4 linked regions of the Homo sapiens genome follow. The protein of the gene in region 3 purifies or fractionates together with the protein of the main gene of each other region. This does not show direct contact. Each region holds a gene or a part of one and is shown on either strand. Other genes may lie near its edges.

Region 1 (7,920 bases), on a different chromosome or scaffold from region 3:
CGTTTTGCCATTATGAATCTTTATGCATTGTTTTTTGCATTTAAATTCATTTCTGTCACTTTCTTAACCTGAAAAACATCAAATCATCCCCCTTCCCTGCTCTATTTTTTTTCCCTCTGCACTTATCACTAATATTCCCTATATTTTCACTTGTTCCCCCACCTGGAATGTGCTGCATCAGGTGAAGTTTTTGTTTACTGCTGACTGCCAGCAACTAGAACTGTGTGGCATATAGCTGGCACTCAAATATTAAGGAAAGTAGTCTTCTGCTACTCTTGATGTTCATTTTAACCTATTTCTCCTAAAACCCTGATGTTCTAGAAGCTATCAGGAGTGTGACCGAACTACATGACCAGAAGTCTGTATTCAGAGAGTGAACAAGTCATTTGCTGGATGCTTATTTTATTAGGTGTTTTACATCCGTTATCTCAAATCAACCTAATTAGGCAGATCTATTATCCCCATTTCATAGATGAGAAGCCAATTTAGAAGAGTTGACTTGTCTAAAATCTAACAGACAATAAATGTCCTATTGTCCAGGCCAAATTCCTGCTTTCTTCTGTGTTGAACTGATCTTAAAGGAATCATATTTTTAGTAATTTTAATGACAGTTCTTACATGGTATATGTTTAATGTTGAGATTATTCGTTGAATATTTCATATGTAATTTGCTGATTCTTTTAATGATTTAAAGTCATTTGAATATTAAATATAAATAGTTGGTCTCTAACTTGTTGACTGTTTTATTCCTAAAACAATTGCACTGTTCAGCTAAAGCCCTGGGCCCTGCTGGAGTGCTGTCAGAAAACCAAAGACAGAGATGTTCCTAGGAGAGTTAATAAACATTGGTACAATTACTATAAAATCTTCAAGACAAAAACCAGCCTGAGAGCATCCTGAGGAACTTTGTCCCAGAATTTTCCTCTCCAAAGAAAGCTCCCCAGAGGGATGCCTTTCCTGACAAGATTCCACTGGGAGGTTCGTCTTTCTCCTGGACAACAGCAGTCAGTAGGGCCATCTGTAGGTTGCAAGGAAAGAGTGTGGAAGTGGACCTGTTCTGAGCCCAGGATAATCAAGGCAGGCTCAGGTTCCAGGCTAGAAAAGCTCCCTTTCAACTGATCAGAGGCCAGTGGGGAACAGGGGATGAGCAGAGGAGATATGGGGGTCCGGGGATAGATGGGAGGTCATCAACAGGGTTTAGGGACACCTTCCTGTCCCCACCATGCTCTGCTCAGTTTTCACGCAGGCAGGACTGGAACTGTGCAGTATAAAGACGTTGCTACTCAGGCATTTTGTTGCTACCTGTGAGGTAAAGTCCAAATTCCTCTCCAGTCAAGGTGCAGACCTCAATCTCAGGATAAGCTCCACAGAACCAAATGCATTTGAGCATCAACTGTCAAGAGATTTTTTTTTTTTTTTTTTGGTCTTTGATGATTTGTATAATTTAGATTTTGAAATGGGCTCTCTGATTACTCAGCCAACAAATATTTATAGGGTACCTTTTATATGGCAAGGCACCAGGCACAGTGCTAAGAGGAACATAAGAAAAACGAACATGGTCTGTGCCTTAGGGAGCTTATATAGACAAAAGCAAACAAATAATCATTAACCTTTATTTTTGTAGGTGACAAATGAGCAATGCATAATATGCAAAATCTGGGTTAAGGGAGAGAATCAAGATATTCAGAAAAAAAATCTCATTACCTGCTCCTCATGCCTCAAAAAAAATCCAGAAGATTTTGAAATGCAGGAGATAAACATCACATATTCCTTATTAATCTTTGTATTCCAAAAATAATTTCTGAAAATCACAGGAAAGAAAACTTTTGTGTATTTATTAGCAGAGGCAAGCTATACTATCAATTGGACACCTCAAGGGCACAAAATTGCCTGGAACTACAACCTTCAAGTTCAAAATTTCTACCTCCAGAAAGCAATGATGTTTCTAAAGATTCTCTTATTTTTTAATTGTGATTAGTAGATGTGTATTCCTACGTATTCTACAGCAATGAGAAATAAGGAGCACATTCTTTTTTTTTTTTTTTAATCAAATCGATTCTGACAAAAGGAGTTTATTGTCTTGCTTGTTAAAAGGCTGACCAAAAAGAAAGTAAGTCTGAATGTTTCAGAGTTGGGAGAAAGCCTGATTCCTTCTGACCCTGAGATATACAAGGAAACTGAACAAATACCAGGCAGCAAAATACTGAGACATTTACCACATAAGAAAGCATTCTTACATAGCAGTTGAGTACTGGGAAGGTTGTTGGGGAGGGTATTATTCACAAACAACTGTCAAAAGATATGAGACCACCGAGTTTTTCTTTTTCTAAAAATCACACTGAGTGATATTATTCTATCAAGAGGATATTCTGAAATACGTGGGCTATCGAAAAAGATGTAAGTACATTTTAAAAATGTTTTTAAAAGCATAGTCAAAACCATTCAAAAGAGAACTCACTCTGTAAAAACGATTCTCATATTTTTTCATGAGATTATCACTTGGCTACTTTAGGATATTTCTTACATGCCTGGTCTTCATCCTGACATATGCAGATGACACAAAATACTTGGGCTTATATTTTTACAGCTTCCTAAAATATAATGAAAACTATTTCCTCTGACACTTTGCCATGGGGCTCTAGGATACTTTTGATATATTTCCTAAAAATATTTAATTTAGATAACAAGGACCAATGACAAGCCAGAATTGGAACCATTCATTCTTTGAGGTCAGAAGTGGTATACTGCCAGCCCATTGAAGTTGAAATGGAAGACAATGTGGCTCAGGCCACAGGGTCAGTTGCTTCTCCTTTTTGGTAAGGTACTTCTTTCCCCACACTCTCACCCAAGTTATCCAGCCCCCAAAATAAACTGTTTCTGATAAAATTACTTTTGCTCTAAGTTAATTTTGTTTATGCATGAAAAATTATTGTCTTGGTCCCATTTCCAAAGGGAAGTAGTTGGATGCCAGCATACTTTAACATTTCGGCACATATACAAACCACAAGCTGTTTATTTCTACAACTCACGATTAATGTAAAACGTTGCTTTCCATGTGCTTTTTTTTCTTAAAGTTTTCAGTTTGGGCATATTTAATTGTGGATGATGGGTTTCCCTACCATTACCCTTAATTTGATGCTATTAGAATTTTTAAAAATCTTTTGTTTGAGGCAATGAATTGGGAACCTGGTACATACACTAGATTTTATGATGGCATAAGAAATTATAGCACATAAATTAATAACACTATAGTACTCCAAGTGCTGTTTAACAGATGTTTTACTGTGGGCTCTCCTTTACATCACTGGGTTAATTACCTAAAGAGGGACACAGAAAAAGTCAATGTGGAGCTGGCATCTGGACCACTCTTCACGTAAGGTGAATGGCTAAATCACCAAGGACAAGATACTTTTCTATGAAATAGGTCCTTCCTATCAGTAGGTTATTGCAGACTTTGCTCACCCAAATAATGACTTCCAATCTAACTGAAACTACCATTACCTTTAGTGAAATATCAATTAGGAATAAGGAAAGGGTTAGGTTTTGTAGGGTTTGAGTGATACTTAGAAGCGAGTCATTTTATGTTTGGTGGGTTTTGAATCATTTGATATACAAAACTTACTGAGTTAAAATTTGTGTTTCAGAAAACGGATTCCAATTTTCAGAGCCGTATGTCAGTGCTTCCTTAGAGAACTGGAGTGTTCTGGTCATCCTGAGAAGTAACAGGCGGAGGGATGCTCCATGATTATAATGTTTAGGTTAAAAGGTATGCTTGACTCCCAAGGTGTTCTGGGAATATTTTATGTGCCAGGACAATGCTGGGGCCCTGCAAAACATCAGTGATCTTGGGAAACCCAGAGGAGGTCAGAATACTACCTGGCAATCTTAGGCTGACCCCAGGAGGTTCATCAATCCGTGAATAATTTTTGGAGTTTTAATGACCTCCTGAGATAGATCTCCAAAATTACTCAAGCTAATCATGTCTCAGTTCTCATTAAAAAGATAAAAGAGGTGTTTCCAACACTACTGAAAATGTGTGTACATACCAAAGGATATAATACTCATTAGTATACCAGCATACAGAACACCAAACAATGGTGGATAGTTTCAAGGATATCAGAAGAGATGCCTTTTAAATTTCATATTGTATTGTGGATCCTGATTGGAACAAAAAGACTGTGAGTTCTGGGCAGGCCAAAGGCCTTGAAAAATAATGTTGATTTGAAGGGGCAGGGAGTGTGGAAGGCTTGTGTATGTCTGTTAAGTAGCGAAACAAAAAATAAAAACATTGTATTTATATATGTGTATAAATTTTAAAAGCCATTTAAACTGAACATTTGAAAAACATAAAACCTATTCATTAAACATATGTGTCTCTGAAAGTACCACTGACCCAATCCTAGAAGCTATTTTAATTTGGCTTTTCAGAGGCCCAAATTCTCTATAAACTTCTCCTTCCTCACAATCAGTAATTAAGACTGGTTCATTAATTTTGGACTCATGTATACTTTGTCTAATATCCTTTTATTTCTCTGCACCCCTCTACAACTCCTCCCCCAAAAGCCCCAAATCAGACTATGTTAATTTAACTGATTACTGTAAAGCCACAGCTAGATCCCAAATCTGACAAATATTCCAATTCATGAGACACCTATAGCATGTTATCTATATTTGTACACTTTATTTAAAAACAAATAATACACTTAGAGCCACCAAAGATGGATATCTTAATTAGCTTATCCATACCCTGAATTTACATAAGAAACTTCTTGCACCACAAAAATTAGCATTTGGATTAATTTACATTAATTGATGTAACTAAAATTTAAAATACCTGAAGATCAAACAATCTGGCCCAGGGCTCACCAGCTGGAGGACTGGGTGTGGAGAGAAAGGGTTATTTAGGAATCTGAATTGATGACACCCTGTGGTCAGCTCTAGTCAACTGAACTTGAGAAAACATAAAGTAACCAGCAGATTTCAATATTAAAAAGAAGTGGTTCCTCCTAAAAAAGGTATTAGATCATAGAGTTGGGATTAGGGTAGGGGATACCTATTAATCTGGGCTGGAAAAAAAGTGTGTGGAGAAGGGGAGTTGTATTGTTTTCTCACAAGAGGCAAACTTCAGCCAAACAATGAAGAGATAGTAGGGAGGGAGATGTGTGGTAGACCAAAGACTTTCTGATTGCTGATAATAACAAATTTAGCAGCTCTCTACAAGTCAATTAAAATACCATTCTCTGAGACATTTTCAGAGAGGAGCTAACTAACACCCACCCAGGGGGGAAAAATCATTCTACATTAACAAGGCACTCACTGGTTCACAGCCTGTTAAAAACCCAGGCAGACATTAGAATCTAAATTAAAATGATTTTGAAAATTTGCATCAGAGAGATGACAAGCATGTGGTCCTGGTTAAATTAAATCTAAAGCTTGGATTAGCAAAGATCCAGAAAATTCTGACCCCCTAAGCACCACTTTAGGAATACCGCCAGAATCAATGAGTGGGATCTAGGGATCTGTTTGGCCTAACATTTGTTTTTTTTAGAATTAAAAAAACAAAACAAAAACTGAAAGGATCTGTTAAATACTTTGTCAACCTGGCATCCCTGACACTGACATGAAGATCCAGTTGGATGATGGATATTGCCAATTAAAAAGTTTGTAGTGGCAAAAGTAAAAATGATTCAAATTGACGAATGACCTGTCCTTTGTTTTTAAACACAGATACGTTTTTCTGGGCCTTTCTCTAAAATGAACTTTAGGGCTTGATACATTTCACAAAAATATACATATTTTTCGTCAGCTACTACTTTGTATACAACCTGAATCCCAGTGTCCAACACTTAAAAGTACTGCAATTATATAAATTACTAAACAAGTTAACAGTAATGGAGAGGCAACTTCTGAGTAAATAAAATGAATGATTATGTACTTAATAGCCTTGTAGTCACTTTCAAAGAATAAAGTAATCTAAATAAAATTATACTTAGCACTCTTTTTCATGTAAGTTCAATAATTATTTGGCTATTGGTTGAAAACATCACACAGACAGACACCAACCAAAGATTCATTATCTCCACTCGCTAAAAACATTGATGGTTAATTTTAAGCAATTCTTTCAAAGAAAAACAAAATTAATTCTAAGCCTTTCAGTCTGATTTGTGACATCTTAATACAATATAACTTAAATGACAAAGCCTGAGAAAAGCACCAACATAGATTTTTTTTTAATTGCATCCAACCATCATTTCAGATGTCATAAAGATTTGCTTCAGTTAAAATGGCAGCAATGACAAAGAGGTAGATATGAGAGATGCTTTTTAAATATTTTAAGACTATTCTTAGGTGGAATTTTAACTAGTTCAGGTATTTAACCTAAAAATATTTACTAGTTGAATCTTTACCACATAAGAACTTCATGACATGCTGTTTTGTAAGAGGGAAATATATGAAGTATTAAAAAGTGAGCCTTTAAAAAATTACATTTACTTAGCCAACATTAATGAGATCCCATAATTTTGGTGAACAAATAATTTCTCCTTCTACCTGAACTTTACTATAATTAAAGAATAGCTATTGTTTTCTCTACTGAAATTTCTAGGAATTCACATTCAAAATTCTTGGAAAGTATATATGGTGCTCAGAAGAGCACAAAGCGCATGAAATGTCCCCTGAAGTCCTAGAAGTTGAGCAGATACATTAAAAAGACATTGATGGTCACAAATCAGGACCTTCACAGATTGGTAAACACACACACACACACACACACGCATGCATGCACACACACACACACACACACACACACACACACACACTAACTCTCTCTCTCTCTCTGTGCCCCCCCTCCCACCCCCTCCCCAAACTCAATCTTCATCCTCACTGTAAGGCTGCATTTTTTTTTTTAAAGGCACCTCTCATTTTCTAGCTATTGCCTTCTTGATGATATTTGTTTTTGTTAAAAAGTCTGAATGTTCAATGGAAATAGTTCAGTACTGAGAATAAAATATTTTTCAATTCACATTTGAATAGCCAGGTTTTCTTACATTCAGATTTTAATACACTAGAATGACAGTCTTTAAAACAAGCATGCTAGCCTATAATGAATATTGTATATACAGTAATTTAAACACTTAGAACTATATATTATACTGCAAAAGCAAACAGCACAACACTCATCATACTCATCATTATCTGCTGTGTATACTACCTCCAAAAATGAAAATACAAAACAGTAAAATGCACCTATGGTTTATATATATATATATATATATATATATATATATATATATATAGTTTATATATTATATATATTCTTACAATATATATAATATATATTTATAAAATATACATACATTTTAGACATTTTCAAATAAATCTTCATCATTATCTCCAAAAGAAATTTATAGCAAGAATACTGAAGGAATGAAAGTCAGATTAAAAAAAAAATTTCTCACAAAGTTCATCATCAGTGATGCAGCTCAATTTCCCCCGTTTTAGTCATAACTAAAATGATTATAAAAGCGAAATATTTTGCATAACTAAGTATTTGTTTAATGGCAAAAGTTGTTAAACTTGTTCAATAGAAAAATACTGAAGGTCATTATATCACTTTTGTTAAATAATCTGTCTATGGTTTGAGTAGCAAATGAGCTCCATATGACAGTTGAGTTTTGAGAAGGGTGCTGCAAGCTCCCAGAGATGTATCCACAGCATATGAAAATAAGGCAGGGATCCAAACCTCCCGCTAATTTTCATACTATTCCAATACATTTCAAACAAAATATTTACAAATGAAGCACTATGAAAGCATTTCAATGGCTGTTTAAACATTGAATTTGTTCATTCTGTGAATTTTCATTGAATGTTCAACAGGCTAGGGGAAAAGTCAGACACATGTATATGCTACTCTGGTTGGAA
Region 2 (7,920 bases), about 38 Mb from region 3:
CAATTCCACTCCTAGGTACATACCAGGAAAATGAAAGTATGTCAATGCAAAAAACTGTACATGAATGTTCACAGCAATATTATTCAACTGATAAATGAGTAAATATGATGTGTTCATACAGTGGAATATCTGGCAAAAAAAAAAAAGTAGGGGGGAATGATGCCCTGAAACAGGCTACAACATGGATGAAAACTGAAAAAATTATGCTCAGTGAAAGAAGTCAGTCACAAAGACAATGTATCACGCCATTTATATAGTGTCCAAAAGAGGCAAATCCACAGAGGCTGAAAGTAGATTAGTGGATGTCTAGGACTGAGGGATTAGGAAAAGGAAGGAGGAATGGGAAGTGACTGTTAATGAACATACGGTTTCTTTTTGCGCGGGAAAAATGTTCTAAAATCAATTTTGTTGATGGTTACACAACTCTGAATATACTGAAAACCCTAAAAGTGTACACTTTAAATAGGTGAATAGTATGGTATGTGAATTACATATCTCAATAAAGGTGTTATATTTAAGAAAAGAGCTAGAGTGGCTATATAATATCAGACAAGGTCAGGCGCAGTGGCCCACGCCCATATAATCCCAGCACTTTGGGAGGCCAAGGCTGGCAGATCATGAAGCCAGGGGTTCCAGAACAGCCTGGGAAACATGGCCAAACCCCACCTCTACTAAAAATACAAAAAATTAACCGGGCGTGGTGGTACACACCTGCAGTCGCAGCTAGCTGGGAGGTGGAGGTAGGAGGATCACCTAAGCCCAGGAGGTTGAGGCTGCAGTGAGCCACAATCACGCCACTAAACTTTAGCCTGGGCAACAAAGTGAGACTTGCCTCAAAAAATAAATAAATATCAGACAAAGTAAACTTCAGAGAAAAGAAAATTACCAGGGACAGAGGAACATTACATGATGATAAAATGCCCAATCACCAAGAAGACATAAGCATCCTAAATGTATATACAACTATAATTAAAGAGCTTCAAAATACAAATGCACTAACTCAAACAACTGAAGGGATATATAGGCATATCCACCCTTACTGCTGAAAAATTAAACATTCCTTTCTCAGTAACTGGCAGACTTTGTACACAAAAATCAGCAATATAGGCAAAATGAACAGCATCCACTAACTGGCTTGAATTGATATTTATGAAATGCTACAACCAACAACAGCAGAGTACACATTCTTTTTAAGTGCTCAAGATATTCATGAGGATAGATCACATCCTGGATCACAAAACAAACCTTAACAAATTTAAGAGAACTGTAATCATACAAATTATGCTTTTTTTTTTTTTTTTTTGAGACGGAGTTTCACTCTTGTTGCCCAGGCTGGAGTGCGATGGCACATTCTCGGCTCACTGCAACCTCTGCCTCCTGGGTTCAAGCGGTTCTCCTGCCTCAGCCTCCCGAGTGGCTGGGATTACAGGCTCATGCCACCATGTCCGGCTAATTTTTGTATTTTTAGTAGAGATGCGGTTTCACCACGTTGGCCAGGCTGGTCCTGAACGCCTGACCTCAGGTGATCTGCCCGCCTAGGCCTCCCAAAGTGCTGGTATTACAGGCGTGAGCCACCACGCCTAGCCAGTACAAATTATGCTCTCTGATTATAATGAAATTAAACTAAAGTAAGTAATTAAGAGATAACAAGAAAAATCTCCAAACATCTGGAAGTTAAACAATGTACTTCTATATAATAAGTCAAAAAGGAAGTTTCTGGAAATTAGAAGATACTTTGATCTAAATAAACATGAAAATACAAAATATCAAAAATTTTGGCATGTATGTAAAACTCTACTTTGAAGCAAATTTATAGCATTAAATGTTTATATTAGAAAATTAGAAAGATCTCAAATCAATTATGTAAGCCTCAACCTTTAGGAACCTGGAGAAGAAGAGCAAAATAAACCTAAAGTAAATAGAAAGAAATAATAAAGAGTAGAAATCAACGAAATTGAGAACAAGAAAGCAACAGAGAAAACCTAATGAAATAAAAAGCCAGTCCTTGGAAAAAAATAAAAATTGAAAAACCTCCTGAAAAATTAACCAAGAAAAAAAGTCAGCAGACATAAATTACTAATGGAAAGAAGGGATATCAGGAAAGATGAGACATCACTACAGACCTCTAATTCCTTAAAAGGATAAGTGAACACAATAATAAATTCCATACACATGAATTGGATAATTTAAATGAAATGGACTAATTCCTCAAAAAACACAAACTACATAAAGTCACACAAGATGAAACAGACAACTATGAATAATCCTATTATAATTATTTTAAGAAACTGAATTTGTAATTAGAAATCTTCTGCAAAAAATCTCCAGACCTGGATGGCTTCAAGGACAAATTCTATCACACATTTAAAGAAGAAATAACACCAATTATTATACAATCTCTTAAAAAAATAATAGAAAAGGAAATACTTGTAATTTTAATCTCATAAACTGATGTCAGTATTACTGATACCAAAACCAAAGAGAATACAAGAAAACCACAGACTAATATCCTTCATTAACATAAATAAAAAATCCTTAAGGAAATATTAGTAACTCAAATTCAGCAACTCATAATGAGAGTAATATACCCTGACCAATGGGAGTTTATCCCAGATTCAAGGCTGTCTCCAATGTAATCCACTGAAGAAGAAAATCACTTATGCATACCAACTGGCATATTATTAAAAAATTCCGCATACTTTCATAATAAAAATTTTCTGCAAGCTAGAAGAGGATTTTTTTAAACTGAGAAAGGGCATTTTCAGAAAACTTACAGCAAACGTCATACTTCATAATGAATGACTGACTGCTTTCCCAATAAAATTAGGAACAAGGGAAGGATGTCTGCAGTCACCAGTCCTGTTCAATACATTGGTGTAATAAGGCTAGGAAGGGGGGAAAAACCATACAGGCTGGAAAAGAAGAAATAAAACGGCCCCTTTTCACAACCAACATTGTTGTCTATGTAGAAAACCCCAAAGAATCCAAAAAAGAACTCCTAAAACTACTACATGATTTTAGCAATGTCACAGGATACAAGCATAAGAATCAACTGTTTTTCTATATACTGGCAACAAACAAATGGAAACCAAAACTTTTTTTTTTAAAACACACATTTACAATAGCAAAACAAAACAAAACAACAACAACAAAAAAACACAAAAAACAAACCCTGAGATTCCTGGGCACAAATTAAAACATATGCAAAATTTGTTTGCTGATAACTACAAAATGCTAATGAAAGAAACTAAAGAGGATCTAAAAGAATGGAGAAACATACTGTGTTCATGGACTGGAAGACTCAACATAGTAGGGAAGTTTTCTTTTTCTTTTTTTTGAGACAGAGTCTTAGTCTGTCGCCCAGGCTGCTGGAGTGCAGCGGTACGATCTTGGCTCACTGGAACCTCCGCCTCCTGGGTTCAAGCGATTCTCTTGCCTCAGCCTCCAGAGTAGCTGAGATTACAAGCGTGCGCCACCACGCCCAGCTAATTTTTGTATTTTTAGTAGAGATGGGGTTTCGTCATGTTGGCCAGGATGGACTCGAACTCCTGACCTCAAGTGATCCTCCTGCCTTGACTTCCCAAAGTGCTGGGATTACAGGTGTGAGCCACTGCACCCAGCCGAAATGTCAAGTTTTCTGTAACTGTTGTACAAACAGTGCAATTTCCAGTCAAAGTCCCAGCAAGATTTTTTTAGAGAAATTGACAAGCTAATTCTAAAATTAGCTTGGAAATGCAAAGAAACTAGATAACAACAAAACAACTATGAAAACAAAAAAAGTTGAAGAAACTATTTGTTTTCAGTTTTTTTCACACTACCAAAGTTTAAGACTTACTATAAAGCTACTTCAATCAAGGTGGCATAGAGCTGATAGAAACAGAAAAGGTTTAGAGACAGGGCCATACAAAAATGGCCAATGGATTTTTGAAAAAGGTGCAAAGGCAAGTCAAAGGAGAAAGGTTGGCTTTTTTCAACAAATGGTGTTGGAAGAACTGGACATCTATATGCCAAAAGTTTAATCCCAACATAATTCCTACACTTAATACAAAAATTAACTCAAAATGGACCATAAGTCTAAATATAAAATTAAAAACAATAACACTTTCAGGAAAAAAATAAGAGAAAATCTTTGTGACCTGGGGTTAGGCAAAGGTTTTTGTAAACATGATACTAAAAGCATGATTCATAAAAGAAAAATTTGATAAACTGGACCTCATCAAAATCACAAACTTTTGCTCTGGGAAAGACACTGTTTAGAGAGTTTGAAAAGACAAGCTACAGGCTGGGAGAAAATATTTCAAATCACTTATCCAACTAAGGACTTGTATCTAGAATACAAAAAAGTCTCTCAAAACAATAAGAAAATAACCCAAATAAAAATGAATAAAAGACTTTACTAGTGAACCAAAAAGATATGGACAAATAAGAAACATGAAAAGATGTTCAACATCATTAGCCATTAGAGAAATGCAATTAGAACCATCATGAAACCTGTCCTCTTAAAATGACTATCTATTTCTGCATCAATACCACATTGCCTCAAATGTAACAGCTGTAAAATAAACTCTCCCTATCTAATATGTATAAGTCACTGTTTTCTTCTTTAAAATTGCTTCACCTATTTGCCTTCTCTCTAACCTAATTCTATCCAAATGGATCTCTAGAGTACCCTAGAGGAAAATCAAACTGTTACGTAATAATTTTAATTAATTCAAACTGTTGGTAGCTTTCTGAATCTGAGCAATAACTAACTACCTTATACTGTCATTTGGGCAAGAGGACAAGTGTTATTCCCACTTTACCAATGAGAAAATAGACCCAGGAATTCCAAATCTAAAAAGCTGAGTGGCTCACGCCTGTAATCCCAGCACTTTGGGAGGCCAAGGCGGGTGGATCACGAGGTCAGGAGATCGAGACCAGCCTGACCAACATGGTGAAACCCTGTCTGTACTAAAAATGCAAAAACTAGCTGGGTGTGGTGGCGCACGCCTGTAATCCCAGCTACTCTGGAGGCTGAGGCAGGAGAACTGCTTGAGCCCGGAAGGTGGAGGATGCAGTGAGCCGAGATCGCACCATTGCACTCCAGCCTGGGCGACAGAGCAAGATTCCATCACAAACAAACAAACAAACCAACAAAGCTGAATGACAGCACCACAAAGCAAGGAAAGAGCCAAACTAGTACCAAAAATAGAATTTCTGATCCCCAGTCTAGTGTCCTATTCCTAAGCCACACTGGATTCCCAGGGTCCTGTTTGCTTTTTACCTGTATAGAAATAATCTCAATCTCATCAGGTGGAAAACGAAAAAAAGTAAGTTCTCTGACCCTACCCAACACATGGAACATCCAAGATATTTTTTAAAATTTTCAAGCCAGCCATAGAAAAGAAATGGGAATGTATATGAAGACAGATTTTAAAGAATAAAAAAATTTCAAATATTTTCCAGACATAACAGCCTAGCAACCATTTTAATTAGGTGTCACAGTTAATTACAAGATCAATGAATGTTTACTGATTGGCTTTTTAAAGTTGTAATTAATATCCACTTTATGAAAAACACTCTCTCCTCTCCAGATTGCATAATGAAATACTACTATCAAAATCAACTACATTTAAAATTTGTTAACTATAAAAACCTACCTATTCAGGGAAAGGAATTATAAGCAGCAGGTAGCTCAAAGCATAATTTTTTTTAGCATTTCAGAAACACAGTGACAACAGTTTCTAAGAATTTGCATGTTCATTTCCTGTACGTGAAACCACACACACAAAAGTTTAAAATATTTTATAATATGCATTTACTTTATCACCTTTTTTGAAGACCATTGTGCTTCCCCTCTTTTTTGGCCAGGAAGTGGAGTGGGAGGAAGAAGACTGTTTTCCAAACTCTCTAACAAGTTTCAAATTTTAAAAAACAGACTACAGTAAAAAAGGAATATTCTAAACTTTTCGGCCTATTTTTATAGTGCCTACCTTAACTGGCCATAATACACTTACTTACATTATTTTCTATAGGCGGGTCCAAATTACAGGTGAATCTCTTTTTTTTTTTAGCAAGTTAAAAAATTTTTTTTTCTTTTCTGCATTAGTCACATTCTCGCCCACTTTACCACCCAAAGACTTTTGCAGTCAGACTCCTGGCAGAAGGCTTAGAACATTCTGCTGCTGATAAAAGAGAAACCACCACCCACCCAAGACAGCAACTGCCAGCTGTTTACTTTTAGATTTTGGTTAAGAAAAATTTAAGGAAATTCAAGTCAAAATTTTCAAGCCAACCTCAGAAAATAAATAGGAATATAAATGAAATGTAAGAGAAATTAAAGACGAAAAAAATTTCAAATATTTTCTAGGTAATTAATAAAAGCCTAGCAACCATTTTAATTAGGCATCACATTAATTGTAAGATCAATGAATGTTTACTGATTGGACACTTCTGTTTCCCTTATCTGCAAATCCACTACTCCTACCACTACATCTACACAGAAATATTGTGGCTACTGATACACCACAGATCTGTCTTTAAATGTCAACAATCTAGTTTAAATTTTTTCATGTTCAGGTATGTGTCTCTAATATTAATTAGTACATAATATGAACTGACCCATATGGAAATAAAAAAACCAAAAGGTATAGTTATGGTTTTCATATAAACTTATAATCTTATGAATGCAAGAAAGAACGCATATAAATTACATATAAAAATAAGCATTTATAAAGGCACATCGCTGTATGTGAAAGCAAAGAAAATTTTCACTGTCCTTGAAAATAGTGGAATGAATACATGTTTGGAACTGTATAAAGACACTTTCTGAAGAAAATTAATTTTTAAACTTGGAAGAAAGATTTTGGAAGTAATGACACTGGAGGATTTTTTTAAAATTACACGTTCCCTTAGAATTGTGGCTGAATATAAGTTTCACATACATATGTTCAAAGAGTTGTGACAGTTCAAGAAGGAACTAACCTAATCTAAACCAGTTATTTCTAACCTACAGGCTAAGGAGTCAGTAGAAGAGTTGCCTGAATGCACATACTCCAAGCACTGTCTGTAGTCTAAAACATTTCTGCTCCATTTCTCAAATATAAATAGATACTGTAAAAATAAAATACAAAATCATTTAAAAGCATAGTAGTTTTCTGTCATTATACATAATTTCAACCAACAATTACTAAAAGTCCAATTGCATGTGTATTAGAAGTACAGGGTTTCTCATAATCAAAATAGGTCGGGACCTTTAAGCTAATGTACAGAGTTCCTTCTGGCCCAAAATTCTATGATTTTAAAGGATGAAGAACTCTTACGGTGAATTCCTTAGAACTATTCCATTTCAATAAACATACATATGTATATATAAATAATGCTTGCTATGTGCCAAGTACTGGACTTTTTCTCAGAGATGAGTAAGACATGATTCCAGACAGACCCAGGTTCAAATTGGCAGGAGAGACAGAAACAAATAATACAACCTAATAAATACTGCAGAAGAAAAGTTTCAAATGCGTTGGGAGCACAGCGGTATCAATGTCACCTGGGGGAGTCTGAGAAGACAATGATTTATGAATTGGGTTTTGACAGGTGGTAAAATAGAGGAACAGTAAACATCCTAGACATCCGCACGTACAAAAGTACAGAGCTGTCAAAGCGCATGGCATGTTTGGGGAAATAGCCAGTATAGTCTTGTATGGTAGGATATTAAAGCAGGACTAAAAGGTAAAATGGATTGGGGCAGACTGTAAAAGATCCTGAATGATGATGTGCTTAACAATTAGGATTTGATGCTGTCAGCAATACGGTTACTAAAAAGTTTAAGGAAAGGACAGAGATAAATATGTATTTCAGAATAACTCTATGGAAGGATTATAGTAGGGAAACCAGTGGAGGGCGGGGGGCAGAGGGGGCAACCGCACTAATTCTGGCGAA
Region 3 (7,920 bases):
CGATTCCCTTGCCTCAGCTTCCCGAGTAGCTGAGATTACAGGCATGCACCACCACATCTGGCTCATTTTTGTATTTTTAGTAGAGATGGGATTTAACCATGTTGGCCAGGCTGGTCTCGAACTCCTGGCCTCAGGTAATCTGCCCGCCTTGGCCTCCCAAAGTGCAGGGATTACAGATGTGAGCCACCGCCCCCGGCACATTTATTGTTTCTATGTTGTATGCAATCATTTATGTATCATCTAGCATATATATTATACTCAGGGTAGTATTATTTAGCATTTAGAATTAGTCTAACATTAATATGTATTTTGAAATATCGTGTTGGAAATCAGGACAGGAAGACATAGTTCGTGGTTGAAGAGCTTCATATGTGTATTTGAAGCTTTATTGCCTGCATATTTTTCCCTTCTAACATAACACATGTAAGGTGCTGAGTTGTAGAAGTTATTTGCCAGGCAGAGAAAGTGTTCTAAACTACGAATTTTAGTGAGCATTGTGGTTTATTTAAAGAAGTGATATGAATGTTTTAAATTCCTGGTAAGATTGGTGAATTAGGGAAGTAAAACATCATAAATATAAAGCAAAACACTCTTAATGTAGAATGTTCCTTTTATCTAACGTTAGATAAGCCTTTTTCTTCATTTTCATGCTGATGATTATAAGAATAAGATAAGCACTTCTGACATACATCATAGTAGTGAAATTTATCCTTTCTCTAGAGAGATGGAAAGAGAGGTATTGCTAGAAGGATCTATTAGAGATACAGTGATTTTTTTTTTTTTTGGATGCTGTACCACCTGGTGGAAAAGTGAGAAAAATGAGGTTTCTAGATTTCTTGAAAATATCCGGAGAAAACAAGATGTTTGTGGTAAATGCAGAATGGGGAGAAAGGGGTGAGGGAGCGGGTGGACTGGAAATTTCTTTCTTCTCTTGCCAGGCAAGGGAACATAGTGCAACTTCTTTCTATCCCCAACAGTAACAAAAACCTTATAAAGAAAATGTTTTCATTTTTTTTCTTACTTTAAACCCCATTCTTAACAACAAGAACAACAACAAAAATGGAAAAGGGTTAAAAAACCTGTCTAGGCCACGTGTGGTAGCTCATGCCTGTAATTCCAGCACTTTGGGAGGCTGAGATGGGAGGATTGCTTGAGCCCAGGAGTTTGAGACCAGCCTGGACAACATGGTGAAACCCTGTCTCTACAAAAAAAATGCAAAAATTAGTCAGGCATGGTGGTGCTCGCCTGTAGTCCCAGCTACTCGGGAGACTGAGGTGGGAGCATTGCTTAAGGCCGGGAGGCAGAGGTTGCAGTGAGCTGTGATCGCACCACTGCACTCCAGCCTGGGCAACAGAGCGAGACCCTGTCTCAAAAACAAAACTGTCTAAAAGATATAAAGGGAACGAACATATGACGTTTTGTGGCAGTTTGAATGTCATGTTTATTGTATCCGCAGGGTCTCGATCAGTACCTGATATACAGTAGTTGCTCAGTGAATGCAAGCTGAATGAATGAATGTTTTCCTGATTTGATAGTAACTGGGTCTTTACCATTTCTTTTTTTTTTTTTTTTTGAGATGGAGTTTCACTCTTGTTGCCCAGGCTGGAGTGCAATGGCGTGATCTCGGCTCACTGCAACCTCCGTCTCCCGCGTGCAAACGATTCTCCTGCCTCAGCCTCCCGAGTAGCTGGGATCACAGGCACCTGCCACCATATCCAGCTAAATTTTGTAGTAGAGACGGGGTCTCACCATGTTGGCCAGGCTGGTCTTGAATTCCTGACCTCAGGTGATCTGCCCGCCTCGGCCTCCCAAAGTGCTGGGATTACAGGCGTGAGCCACCGCACCTGGCCCCTGATCTTTACCATTTTCAAATGTACTGTATCTTATGGTGCTCCCAAAAACTGTATGAAACATTAACTTAATGAAAGGGGGAGGTATTATTTAGTGATTGTATAAGGCCCACACCTAGATAGCAAGAAGGCTGGAACTCAGGTTTTCAGACTCAAATTACACTCTCTATTTTGTTACTTTTTAGCTATAAAAATAATTTTATGGCTCCATATTCCCTTTGCAAATAAGGACACCTAAAATTTAAGAGTTTCTTAAAATTTCTTTTCTTTTCTTTTTTTTTTTTTTTTGAGATAGATTCTTACTGTGTCACCCAGACTGGAGTGCAGTGGCAGGATCTTGGCTCACTGCAACCTCCATCTCCCAGGATCAATTGATTCTCATACCTCAGCCTCCTGAGTAGTTGGGATTACAGGCACCCGCTGCCAGGCCTGGCTTTTTTTTTTGTATTTTAGTCTAGATGGGGTTTTGCCATGTTGGCCAGGCTGGTCTTGAACTTCTGACCTTAAGTGATCTGCCCTCCTTGGCCTCCCAAAGTGCTGGGATTATAGGCATGAGCCACCGCGCCTGGCTGTTTCTTAAAATTTCAACTCCCTGACCTGCATATAGTCATGACAGTGTTTATAATTTGTATTTGTGGATTCACGTATTTGTGGATTCGCTGTGTTTCAAAGGATCCACCTAATCATTGTTTTCAGCAAAACCAAAAATGTGGACAGTTGTGTAATTTATTATTTGCCTTCTTGATTTCCCACCAAAATCAAACTACCTGTAAATACAGGACACATTCAGATTTCCAAAGAATAGAAATGGTCTAAAGTTATAATCTGTCAGAGTGTGTCTTACCTCTTAGCTAAGCTACCTCTCCTCCTGAGCCTTTGGTAGTTCATGGGAATAAGGAAATGAGACAGTATTTTTGCTTTAGAAGTAGGGTAGTCAAGAAGTCTTGAGAAACGTGAAATTGTCTTCTGAACAACCCACACTTTAAAAAAAATTGCGCTGAAGAATTTTACTTCAGTAAGTAAGTCTATTAGACTCCCCATAGCAGGCCTCAACTTCACCCTTTCGGTTTTCTCTTTCTTATTCAAATATTTTTGTGCCTCAATTATTTGGTTGTGTCTTATTGCTAGAATCAACAGTAATGAGCTGCACTCTTTTATTAGTGTTTCCATTAGAAGTTTAGAGCTAGATCACTGGGGTAAAAGAATAGTGGTTTATGACATAATAGGTATTTTGACTCTACTAGCCTTTTTCTTTTTTTTTTTTTGAGACGGAGTTTCGCTTTTGTCACCCAGGCTGGAGTGCAGTGGTGTGATCTCGGCTCTGCAACATCTGCCTCCTGGGTTCAAATGATTCTCCTGCCTCAGCCTCCCGAGTAGCTGGGATTACAGGCTCCCGCCACAGTGCCTGGCTAATTTTTTGTATTTTTAGTAGAGACGGGCTTTCACCATGTTGGGCAAACTGGTCTCAAACTCCTGACCTCAGGTGATCCACCCACCTCGGCCTCCCACAGTGCTAGGATTACAGGTGTGAGCCACCACTCCTGGCCTATACTAGCTTTTTAAATGCTGATTTTTAATTCCCGTATTATGGGGCATAAACATTTTCACCAGACATTTTGCCTAGGGCAAGGTGATTTACACATCTTTTCTGCATGTCTGATATGTTCTGTTCTTACACGATATTAATCCATTGGAATTTTGTGTTTGTGTGAGCAAGATTCACAAAGGCATATTCCTTTAAATGAATTTCAGAAGAAAAAGTTTCCAGTCCTATAAAGCCTCATATTTGAGTAGTATACTCCTTATCCCATTTCTTCTTCTGGCCAACTCACAAGATTTGGAATTATTTGGAAAGCAGTGACACAAAACATTTTTGAAAAGAAAGGCTAAAAATATCCAATAATGTGGTTATTCTTTTTAGACTTCCTTTGGCAGTCAGTGCATGTCATACGGTTAACATTCTTTTTCTGGGAGAAAAAAAAACTGAGTCTGACCAAATACTTTCTAGTGTGGCCTGATCACCAACTCTTAGCCCTGGGCATTAGCCCTCGCATTTTCCACCCCCAAGTCTCCAAGCATAAGTAGCTGTCTTTCAATAAAGGCCCCAGTTTGAAACGTGTATTTCACTCCTAATTTGGCCAAAGGCCATTGGCTAGCAGTCCCTCTTCAGAGGGGATGGTGAAAAGACAGTAGGATATATGATAAATGCATGCAAAGGAGCTTCTCTTCTATATGACAAGTCTTGGCTAACTTAGCCTCTTTGCATCTTCCTCTGTTTGAAGAGCTACACACATTTGCCTTGTAGGAAGTTTTTATTCTCATGGCAAGCAGGCATTACCTCTATTACAAGGCCCCGCTTATTGTTCACCCTGTGATGTAAGAGCTTTTAGGACTCCAACAATATTAGCCTTCTCTTTAATTCCTTTCAGGCCCCATCGCCATCTCAGAACCATGGCCTGGAGTTGCCGCCCTCCATTCTCCTTAACATGTCGACTCAGAAAAGTCTTAAAGCCCGCTGTTCTTTCCCTTCATAGCAAAAATTATAATTTATCATTATATTTTGTTTAATGAGGACAGAGACTAGCATTTTTTACCTACTACATAATATAAATGCTTGGCACTTAAGGTGCTTGAACAAATGAAAGCCTGCTCATTTTGGATGGATGTCCCAGTATTTGGTACTGTTAGTTTTCCTTTATACACAAATGTACACAATGTCTCCCCCTTTCCAAACTAGACCATAAGCCTTCACAGTATCTTACAGGTAGTAGTGATTTAAAATGGGATGATATTGGTAATATCTGTGATTACTGGTTAAGCATAACTCACTTTATATACTTTCCCCTTGTTTTAAGAAAACTCATCATTTATTCATTAATATATTTAGTTGACAATTTATTGTGTGCCTCCTATGTGCCAGATACTGTTCTAACCTCTGGGGTTAGGGTGGTGAACAATACACAGTCCCTGGCCTCTTTTGGCAATGTTTTTAAAAAGCTTACCCAATAGGCAAATGAAAATATCTCTCTAATTTTTCCCTAAAGAGCTTGCTCCTTTAGTGTATTTGAGGAAACTTTGAAATGTAGTTTTTCAGGAACACACCTATTTTGTAGTGTGGTAAAGCTATACATTGATTGATTGATTGGTTGAGACGGAGTCTTGCTCTGTCACCCAGGCTGGAGTACAATGATGCGATCTCCACTCACCGCAACCTCTGCCTCCTGGGTTCAAGCAATTCCCCTGCCTCAGCCTCCCCAGTAGCTGGGATTACAGGTGCGTGCCACCACATGGGGCTAATTTTTTATATTTTTAGTAGGGATGGGGTTTCACCATATTGGCCAGGCTGGTCTTGAACTCCTGACCTTGTGATCTGCCCGCCTCGGCCTCCCAAAGTGCTGGGATTACAGGAATGAGCTACCGTGCCCGGCCCTATACATCTGTTTAGATGGGAATGTTGACGTGGAAGTGTATCACTTCCTGTTTTACGTCCCTGTGTAAAACAATCACATTTCCTTATTGATGACTGTCTTCCAACAGAAACGTAATCATCTTCAAGGTTAGAAAATGTTTTTTAAATAACTTCAACCAGCGTTAACCAAACTGGTTAATTCACCAAAATGTTAACCAAAATTAACCAAATCAAATTTGGTTTATTTTCCAGGTCTCTTTTTTCTTTTCTTTTTTCATTTTTAAAGAGATGGGATCTTGCTATGTTGCCCAAGCTAAAATGCAATTGTTATTCACAGGCATGATAATAGTGCCCTATAGCCTCGAACTCCTGGGCCCACATGATCCTCCTGCCTTAGCCTCCTGAGTATTCCAGGTTTTTCTTAATAGTTTAAACAGGTAGTTCTGGTTTGGCTATCAGTAGTGTTGTCAAATAGCTTTTGTTTGCTTAATTTTATTTTTATTTTTTTTGAGACAAGTCTTGATCTGTTGCCCAGGCTGGAGTGCAGTGGCGTGATCTCGGCTCACTGCAACCTCCACCTCCTGGGTTCAAGCAATTCTCCTGCCTCAGCCTCCCAAGTAGCTGGGATTACAGGGGCATGCCACCATCCCCGGCTAATTTTTGTATTTTTAAAGTAGAGACGGGGTTATACCATGTTGGCCAGACTGGTCTCAAACTCCTGACCTCATGATCTGCCCTCCTTGGCCTCCCAAAGTGCTGGGATTACAGGCGTGAGCCACCACGCCCGGCCTTTTGTTTTTGTTTTTGTTTTTTTTAAATGGAGAGGGCCAGATAATGCTCTAGGAAGGATGTCAGAACCCATAAAAAATGATGAGTATTTGAAATATATGTAAAAACTTAAGTAACAAATCAGAAAATATATTCTGAGATAGAAGTGACCATTCTAAAACTGTGCTGTACAATACAGTAGTCACTAGCTACATGTAGTTTTTAAGCAATCGAAACGTGGCTAGTCTGATTGAGATTGCTGTGAAAAATACACACTGGATTTTGAAGATTAGAAATGTACCCTAAAACTTAAAGTATAATAATAAAAAAAAAGAAAGAATGTAAAATATGATAATTAAAAAATTGCAATTACATGTTGAAATGATAATATTCGATAATATTTGAGTTAAGTAAATTTAATGTTACTTATTTTTTAGCATGGCTATGGAAAACTTAAAATTATGCATGTGGCTCGCATGATATTTTTGTTGAACAATGCTGTTTGCTGAAGCAGGGCTGGCAGCCCTTGCCAGAGGTTTGAATCTCCATTGTCTTGGTGGCTGCAGATGGATGGATGTGGGGGTACCAGCCTGGTGTGTTGGGAAGATTTTTCTTTGTGAAGGGGAACTTGCCCTTTACTGTTGGGGATAGTTTCTTCTCAGCCTATCCAGGGACACACATACCAGCATTTTGGGGTTGTGAAACTTTTGTGTGGGGAACTTCCCTTTTTTTTTTCCACATGAGCCAATAAGATAAAACTGACCTAATGGCATTCTCGGTGCAACTCTGCCTTCAGTTTAAGGACAGAAGAGGGCTCATGTTTCATAGAGTATTAAAGGAGCAAGCTTAATATTTTGCATTTTGTGGACTGTAATTGCTAACTGCTGCTACATGATTCAGTCAGCTAAGAATAATTTACTAATTATATATTGCCTCACTTGGTTCTTTTTCCAGATGCTAAACAAGGTGAGATAATTAGAGGAGGAAAAAGGGTGAGTTTGGGAATTGGAGACCAGAAGGATGGATTTAGAAGATCTTGGAGTTAACGGACTTAGAATATAGTCAGCAAAGAGTTCACTTAAAATTAGTGCAGGTTGCCAGGCGTGGTGGCTCACGCCTGTAATCCCAGCACATTGGGAGGCCAAGGCGGGCGGATCACGAGGTCGGGAGTTCAAGACTAACCTGGCCAATATAGTGAAACCCCGTCTCTACTAAAAATACAAAAATTAGGCAGGCATGGTGGTGCATGCCTGTACTCCCAGCTACTCGGTAGGCTGAGACAGGAGAATCGCTTGAACCTGGGAGGTGGAGGTTGTGGTGAGCCGAGATTGCGCCACTGCACTCCAGCTTGGGCAACAGAGTGAGACTTTATATCAAAAAAAAAAAAAAAAGAAATTAGTGCAGGTTGACTGTGTGTGTGTGTGTGTGTGTGTAGTTTTCTGAATTCATTTTTCAAGTATTGAATATTCACAATGATGCTAGACTAAGTGCTAGAGATTTGGTGGTGAACGAAACAGATTGAAACCTGCCTTCATGGGGGGCGTATATAGGTTCGTCTGACTAGTCTAGATAAGTGAATTTGTGTAGTAATTGTTTTTTTGTAACTGGCTTAGTTTACTTAGCTTGATGTCATCAAGATTTATTCATGTTGGAGTATGTGTCAGAATTTCCTTCCTTTTAAAGGCTGAATAATATATCCATTGTATGTATATATCACTTTTTGTTTATCCATTGATTCTTCCATAGACATTAGGATTGCTTCCACCTTTTGGCTCATGTGAATAATGATGCTGTGAACAGGGGTGTACAAATATCTCTTAAAGACCCCTCTTAAAACTTTTTGCGATATATACCCATAAGTAACAGTTGCTATAGAATCATATGGTAATTCTG
Region 4 (7,187 bases), on a different chromosome or scaffold from region 3:
GCAGTGGTGCGATCTGAGCTCACTGCAACCTCTACCTCCCGGGGTCAAGCGATTCTCCTACCTCAGCCTCCCAAGTAGCTGAGATTACAGGCATGCGCAACCATGCCCAGCTAATTTTTGTATTTTTAGTAGAGATGGGGTTTCACCATGCTGGTCAGGCCGGTCTCGAACTCCTGGCCTCGTGATCTGCCCGCCTCGGCCTCCCAAAGTACTGGGATTACAGACGTGAGCCACTGTGCCCAGCCTACGCCCAGCTAATTTTAAAATTTTTCAGTAGCACTGGGGTCTCACTATGTTGCCCTGGCTGGTCTTGAACTCCTGAACTCAAGTGATCCTTTGGCCTCGGCCTCCCAAAGTGCTGGGATTATAGGCATAAGCCACCACGCCCGACTCAACGTTTAATTTTGGATGAACCGCCAGACTGTTTTCCACAGCAGCTGCTTGACGCTAGCCAGTCTAATGGGTGTGAGGTGGGATCTCATTGTGGTTTTGATTTCCATGTCCCTAATGATTAGTGATGTTGCATCTTTTCATATGCCTATTGGCCATTTGTCTGTCTTCTTTGGAGAAATGTCTATTCAATTCCTTTGCTCATTTTAAAATTTTGTTTTACTTTTTAGAGACAGGGTCTCGGTCTGTTACCCATGCTGGAGTGTAGTGCAAACACAGCTCATTATAGCCTCAACTTCCTGGGCTCAAGTGATCCTCCCAGCTCAGCCTCCCAAGTAGCTGGGACTACACAGGTGCATGCCATCGTGCCTGGCCAATTGTTTAATGTTTTGTAGAGATGGAGTCTCACTATGTTGCCCAGGCTGATCTTGAACTCCCAGCCTCAAGCGATTCTCTCGCCTTGGCCTCCCAAACTGTTGGGATTACAGGCATGAGCCACCATACCTAGCCCCCTTTGCCCATTTTTAAATTGAGTTGTTTTCCGTTGCTGAGTTTTAGGAGTTTTTTAAATCATTCTGGACATTAATCCTTTAGCAGATAAATGGCTTGCAAATATTTCCTCCCATTCTGTGAGCTGCCTTTTTATTCTTTTGATAGTGCCCTTTGATGCACAAAAGTTTTAAATTCTCATGAAGTCCATTTTGTCTATTTTTTTCTTTTGTTGTCTGCACTTTTGATGTCAGACCCAATAAATGATTGCCACATCGATTTTTTTTCTTTTTTCTTTTTCTTTTTTTTTTTTTTCAGATGAGTCTGGCTCTGTTGCCCAGGCTGCAGCATGGGAGCACTATCTTGGCTCACTGCAACCTCCGCCTCCCGGGTTCAAGCGATTCTCCTGCCTCAGCCTTCCTGAGTAGCTGCGATTACAGGCACCCACCACCACACCTGGCTAATTTTTTTTGTGTTTTTAGTAGACACGGGGTTTCACCACGTTGGCCAGGCTGGTTTCAAACTCCTGACCTCAAGTGATCTGCCCGCCTCGGCCTCCCAGAGTACTAAGATTATAGATGTGAGTCACCATGCCTGGTCAAATCCAACAGTGAGAAGCTTCTACCCCATGTTTTCTTCCAGGAGTTTTAAGTTTTCCATTTCACATTTAGGTCCATTTGGAGGTAATTTTTGTATGTGGTGAAAAGATCCAGTGTCATTCTCTTGCATGTGGAAGCCCAGCTTTCCCAGCACCATTTGTTGAAAAGACTATCCTTTCCCCATTGAATGTTTGGAACGCTTGTTGAAGATCATTTCAGCATACATGTGATGATTTATTTCCGGGCCTCTATTGTATTCCATTGGTCTATATGTCTGTCTTTATGCCAGTGCCACGCTGTTTTGATTACTGTAGCTTTGTAGTAAGTTTTGAAATCTGGAAGTGTGAGTCCTCTATCTTGATTCTTCTATTTCATGATTGTTTAATCTCCTTTTCACATTGTTCATTGTTCATGTATAGAAATTCAACTGTGTTTTGCCTGTGGACTTTGTACCTTGCTTCTTTGCTGAATTCGTTTATTATTATTTTTTGAGATGGAGTCTCACTCTGTCGCCCAGGCTGGAGTGCAGTGGCACAATCTCAGCTCACTGCAACCTCCACTTCCTGGGTTCAAGCAGTTCTCCTGCCTCTGCCTCCCGAGTAGCTGGGATTACAGGCACCTGCCACCACGCCCAGCTAATTTTTGTATTTTTAGTAAGAGACAGGGTTTCGCCATGTTGGCTAGGCTGGTCTTGAACTCCTGACCTCAAGTGATCTGCCTGCCTCAGCCTCCCAAAGTGCTGGGATTACAGGCGTGAGCCACTGCACCCCCAGGCCTGATTTTTTACATTATTGTTCATAAAGTCTGTTGAACTGGCATTTTCTTGTAGAATTAAATATCTGTGCCTGGCTTTGGTATTAAGACAATTCTGGTCTTATAAAATGAGTTAGGAAGTGTTCCTTCCTCTTCAGTTCCTCGGAAAAGTTTGAGAAAGGCTGATGTTAGTTCTCTAAATGTTTAGTGGCTTCCCCAGGGCTTTTCTTTGTTGGGAGGTCGTAAGTTACTGATTCATTCTCCTTGCTAGCTACAGGTATGTGCTGATTTTCTATTTTTGTGATTGTGTCTTGGTAGTTTTTGTGTTTCTAGGAATGTGTCCATTTCGGCTGAGGGTATGCATTTGTTGGTATACAGACGGGGTAGTACTCTTACCCCCTGAGCTGGGCAGCAGCTGTGATTGTAAGATGCAGGGTCTGGCAGGCTTCTTGTGCCCGAGACCCAGCCGTATCCTTTCATTTCATTGATCATTCACTTGCCCAGGGCTGGTGGCCTTGTCCCCTTTGGCCCTAAGGTCAGGGTTTGGACAAGGCCCCCAGAGCTGCTGTCTCATCCGCATCCAGCATCCCGCAGTGATCTTGGGCCCGCCTCTCAAGGCTCTGTCCACCCACCCTGGCTCCCCATCACCCTTGGGGCAGGGATTCTGTCTGTCTTGGTCACAGCCCTGTTTCAGGGCCTGGTGCCCATGAGGTTCTGTTAAATGCCCCTTGAGCAAGTGAACCAGACAAATGCTGCAGAAGCAGCAGATGGTCCAGGCACTGGCTGCTTTCAGGGCTCAAACTCTTAAACCCTCTTCCAGGAAGCATTCCCTGATTGCCACCCACTCGCCCCCCAGCCCTGGGGATGTCTATGTCCAGGGACTGGCTGGGGATGAGTCAGGCTCTAGGCACAAAGGGGTGGCCGGTGGTGTTTGTAGAGTGAGTGAAGAGTCACTGGAGTCAAGGCGTGGTGACATGCACCTGTAGTCCCATCTACTTGGAAGGCTGAGGCAGGAGGATCACTTGAGCCCAGGAGTTTGTGACGAGCCTGGGCAGCATAGCGAGACCCCATTTCTTAAAATAAGATTCACTGGAGTCATGAGCGCACCAGGCCTCCCCAGAAAACTCTGAGTTCAGGCCTCCTGCTGAGGAGGGAGCTGCTCTGAGTGGTGCAGGTCGAACTTGGAGCCTCGGCCCCTCCCCAGCCCCAGGAGCTCATCCCTGCCTCCCCATCCCCCCGCCCGCAGGGTCAGCCAGCAGCCGGCCCGGGGTGTCAGCCACCCCACCCAAGTCCCCGGTCTACCTGGACCTGGCCTACCTGCCCAGCGGGAGCAGCGCCCACCTGGTGGATGAGGAGTTCTTCCAGCGCGTGCGCGCGCTCTGCTACGTCATCAGTGGCCAGGACCAGCGCAAGGAGGAAGGCATGCGGGCCGTCCTGGACGCGCTACTGGCCAGCAAGCAGCATTGGGACCGTGACCTGCAGGTGCGTGTCACCCCAGGGCCTCTGGTGGTAAGTGTAGTTAGCACAGATGGGTAAAACCACCCTCGACCCTCAGAGACTAAGCTGTGTTCCCCAGGCCACACGGGAATGGGGGCGAATGTGGGAGTCTCACATGGCTCAGCCCTTAGGGGTCTCTTCGGACTCTGATTCTGTCGTGTCACTGTTGTCATTGGCTGTGCTGGAAGCCTGGGGGAGGACGCAGGGCCTCGTGAAGCCTCATGGTTCTATCCCTTCCCCAGACACCTTGTCACTTAGCCATTGTTCCGCTGTGAGAATTAGTCGGGATGGAATAGGTGGGCTGGGTGGTATCTGTGCGGCTGAGAACCCTCCCCCATGGCTGCATGAAGCTGAGAGACTGAAACCAAGCCCTGCAGGGCGAGGTGCATGTGGGCAGAGGGAGGACCGCCTCACACCGCGGCCCCTGCCCTCTCATAGCTGCTAGGCTGGCTTCAAAGGAGTGTCCCTGTAGGGTGCACGACCCAGGAAAAGGCCCAGAGGTAGGAAAGAGGTTGGTGTGTTCAAGGAGCAGGGGGAGATCCAAGTGAGTAGAGAGGGGTCTCAGGCCAAGGAAGGCCTTGCAGAGGAGGAGCTCCGTCTCCTGTGTGCTGAGAAGGCTCTTTGGGTGCTGGTTGGGAGGAACAGGGACCTCACAGACGGGCTGACCACCCATTGCAGACCTCAAGGTGGAGCACACAAGATCAGGGAAAAGCCAGGAGGGGTCTCAAATGCCAGGAAAGGAAGGCGACTTGGGCCCAGGCCAGAAGGGCAGGGGGCACCCCCCTCACTGGTGGTCCACTCTCCCCACACACCCCCCCTCCACCTGCAGGTGACCCTGATCCCCACTTTCGACTCGGTGGCCATGCATACGTGGTACGCAGAGACGCACGCCCGGCACCAGGCGCTGGGCATCACGGTGTTGGGCAGCAACAGCATGGTGTCCATGCAGGATGACGCCTTCCCGGCCTGCAAGGTGGAGTTCTAGCCCCATCGCCGACACGCCCCCCACTCAGCCCAGCCCGCCTGTCCCTAGATTCAGCCACATCAGAAATAAACTGTGACTACACTTGGCTGTGGCCTCTCTTCTTTCTGTGATGGGAGACTTGGCATGTACCTCCTGGTCCTGCGGGTGGGGACAGCTTCCATGGAATCCCCAGTGACCCTGCGGTCAGGCCCACTCTGGCCTCCATGTCGCAGATGGGAGAAATGCAGGCTTCGCTGGGCCTGGTTTGGGGAAGGAAGTGCCTCTCAGAGTTAATGACCACTGACCGGTGGAGCTCCTGACTATGGCCTCCATCCCGACTCAGCAACTGTGAGGGGCCCAAGTTATAGGCGCGAAGTAGCTACCTGACTATCTGTCACACAAACCAGTTGGTGGCAGGGGGAGATTGAATACCTGTCTCTGCTCCAAAGCCATCAAACAAAAGCTATCCTGCTGTCCCTAGAGGAGATGGATGCTTATTCCAGAAAGTCTTACTCTGCAGGAAGGATTTACAGAGGAATCTGAAACCCAGAGATTACAGAATATCCACTTCTGACTAATGCACCCTGACCCCTCTCTGCAGAAATACAAGCACTTAGGTTTACTATTAGATACAATGTCATCTGTACTGGGTTGAATGGCAGCCAGCCCCCAAAACACATTCAACACCTGACCCCTGACACCTGTGAATGTGATGTTATTTTGAAAAAGGATCTTTGCAGATACAGTTTTATTATTTTTTGAGATGGAGTCTTGCTCTGTCACCCACGCTGGAGTGCAGTGGGGCGATCTTGGCTCACTGCAACCCCCGCCTCCTAGATTCAAGCGATTCTTGTGCCTCAGCCTCTCTAGTAGCTGGGATTACAGGCACACGCCACCACGCCCGGCTAATTTTTGTATTTTTAGTAGAGACGGGGTTTCACCAGGTTGGCCAGGCTGGTCTCGAACTCCTGACCTCAGATGATCCACCCGCCTCGGTCTCCCGAAGTGCTGGATTACAGGTGTGAGCCACCATATGCCTGGCCCTTCACAGGGTCTTACGGTCACAGGGTAGGTGATCAGGAAGGGCAGGTGGAGCAGAGGAGCCATGCCTGTGCCTGCCACCTCCTGTCCAATGCCTGCTAGCAATGCCAAGATCGCTAAGCTCAGCCAGCCACCTCCCACTTCCACCTACCCACCCTCCACACCTCTGCAGCGGAAACTTAACAGGGATGGGAGTCCTGGGAGAAAGGCCCCAGCCTAGGCGAGTTGACACAGCAGTGCAAAGCCAGCCCTGCCCAGTTCCCCATCAGCTGGCACTCAAGTTATGGCCTTTTCTCCGTTGCCAGGGTAAGGATGGACCTCTTCTGGGGTCACCATTTATACATGAGGATGATTCCCCTGGGTTTCTTGTTTTGGCCAAACTGTCTAGTGACCCCTGCTGCCTACTTGTTCTTATTTCAATTGTCCCGTTATCAGGGAGGTTTCTTTCTATTTATGGGCTCTTTCTTTTTTTTTTTTTTTTGAGACAGTTTCTCTCTCTTGTCCAGGCTGGAGTGCAATGGTGCAATCTCAGCTCACAGCAACCTCAGGCTCCGAGGTTCAAGCAATTCTCGTGCCTCAGGCTCCCGAGTAGCTGGGATTACCGGCATGTTCCACCATGCCCGGCTAATTTTTGTATTTTTAGTAGAAATGGGGTTTTGCCATGTTGACCAAGCTGGTCTCAAACTCCCGGCCTCAAGTGATCCACCCACTTCAGCCTCCCAAAGTACTGGGATTCCAGGCATGAGCCACCGTGCCCAGCCCAGGCCTTTTTCCTTCTTTCTCTTGAGACAGGGTCTCGCTCAGTCACCTAGATGACTGCAGTGGCACAATGTCGGCTCACTGCAACCTCTGCCTCCTGGGCTTAAGTGATCCTCCCACCTCAGCCTCCTGAGTAGCTGGGACTGCCTGGCTAATTTTTTGTATTTTTGGTAGAGCCGGGGTTTTGCCATGTTGGCCAGGCTGGTCTTGAACTCCTAACCTCAGGTGATCCACCCACTTTGGCCTCCCAAAGTGCTAGGATTACAGGCATGAGCCACTGGGCCCAGCCCTTTTTTTTTCTTTTGAGACAGGGCCTCACTGTTGCCCAGGCTGGAGGGCAGTGGCATGATCATGTCTCATTGCAGCCTCGACCTCCCAGACTCAAGTGATCCTCCGACCTTGGCCTCCCAAGTAAGTAGGACCACAGGTGTGCGTCACCACACCCGCCTAATTTCTTTTATTATTTGTAGAGATGAGATCTCACTATGTTGCCCAGGCTGATCATGAACTCCTGGGCTCAAGCGATCCTACTTCGGCCTCCCAAAGTGCTGGGATTTACAGGCGTGAGCCACTGTGCCTGGCTTACAGGCCTTTTTCTAATTAGCTGGTTTGATATTTTTCTCATTGGGTATTTGTCTTTTTCTCATTCCTACACAATTTTCTTTTTTAAATTAGGGATAATAAACTTATGTGGT

What was found.
Region 1: the proteins of RASSF3 (region 3) and STRN purify together in Homo sapiens (affinity purification with mass spectrometry; one large-scale study listed by BioGRID and IntAct). This does not show direct contact.
Region 2: the proteins of RASSF3 (region 3) and FGFR1OP2 purify together in Homo sapiens (affinity purification with mass spectrometry; one large-scale study listed by BioGRID and IntAct). This does not show direct contact.
Region 4: the proteins of RASSF3 (region 3) and MAP1S purify together in Homo sapiens (affinity purification with mass spectrometry; one large-scale study listed by BioGRID and IntAct). This does not show direct contact.

What each region holds. Positions count from the first base shown.
Region 1 is NC_000002.12:36,839,135-36,847,054, forward strand, and holds part of STRN (striatin), read right to left. Parts: 3' UTR 1-7,920. UniProt on the Homo sapiens protein: Calmodulin-binding scaffolding protein which is the center of the striatin-interacting phosphatase and kinase (STRIPAK) complexes.
Region 2 is NC_000012.12:26,939,245-26,947,164, reverse strand, and holds part of FGFR1OP2 (FGFR1 oncogene partner 2), read right to left. Parts: intron 1-7,920. UniProt on the Homo sapiens protein: May be involved in wound healing pathway.
Region 3 is NC_000012.12:64,612,578-64,620,497, forward strand, and holds part of RASSF3 (ras association domain-containing protein 3), read left to right. Parts: intron 1-7,920.
Region 4 is NC_000019.10:17,729,716-17,736,902, forward strand, and holds the end of MAP1S (microtubule-associated protein 1S), read left to right. Parts: intron 1-3,477; coding exon 3,478-3,713; intron 3,714-4,551; exon of another isoform or gene 4,552-4,557; coding exon 4,558-4,713; 3' UTR 4,714-4,798; downstream 4,799-7,187. UniProt on the Homo sapiens protein: Microtubule-associated protein that mediates aggregation of mitochondria resulting in cell death and genomic destruction (MAGD). Plays a role in anchoring the microtubule organizing center to the centrosomes. Binds to DNA. Plays a role in apoptosis.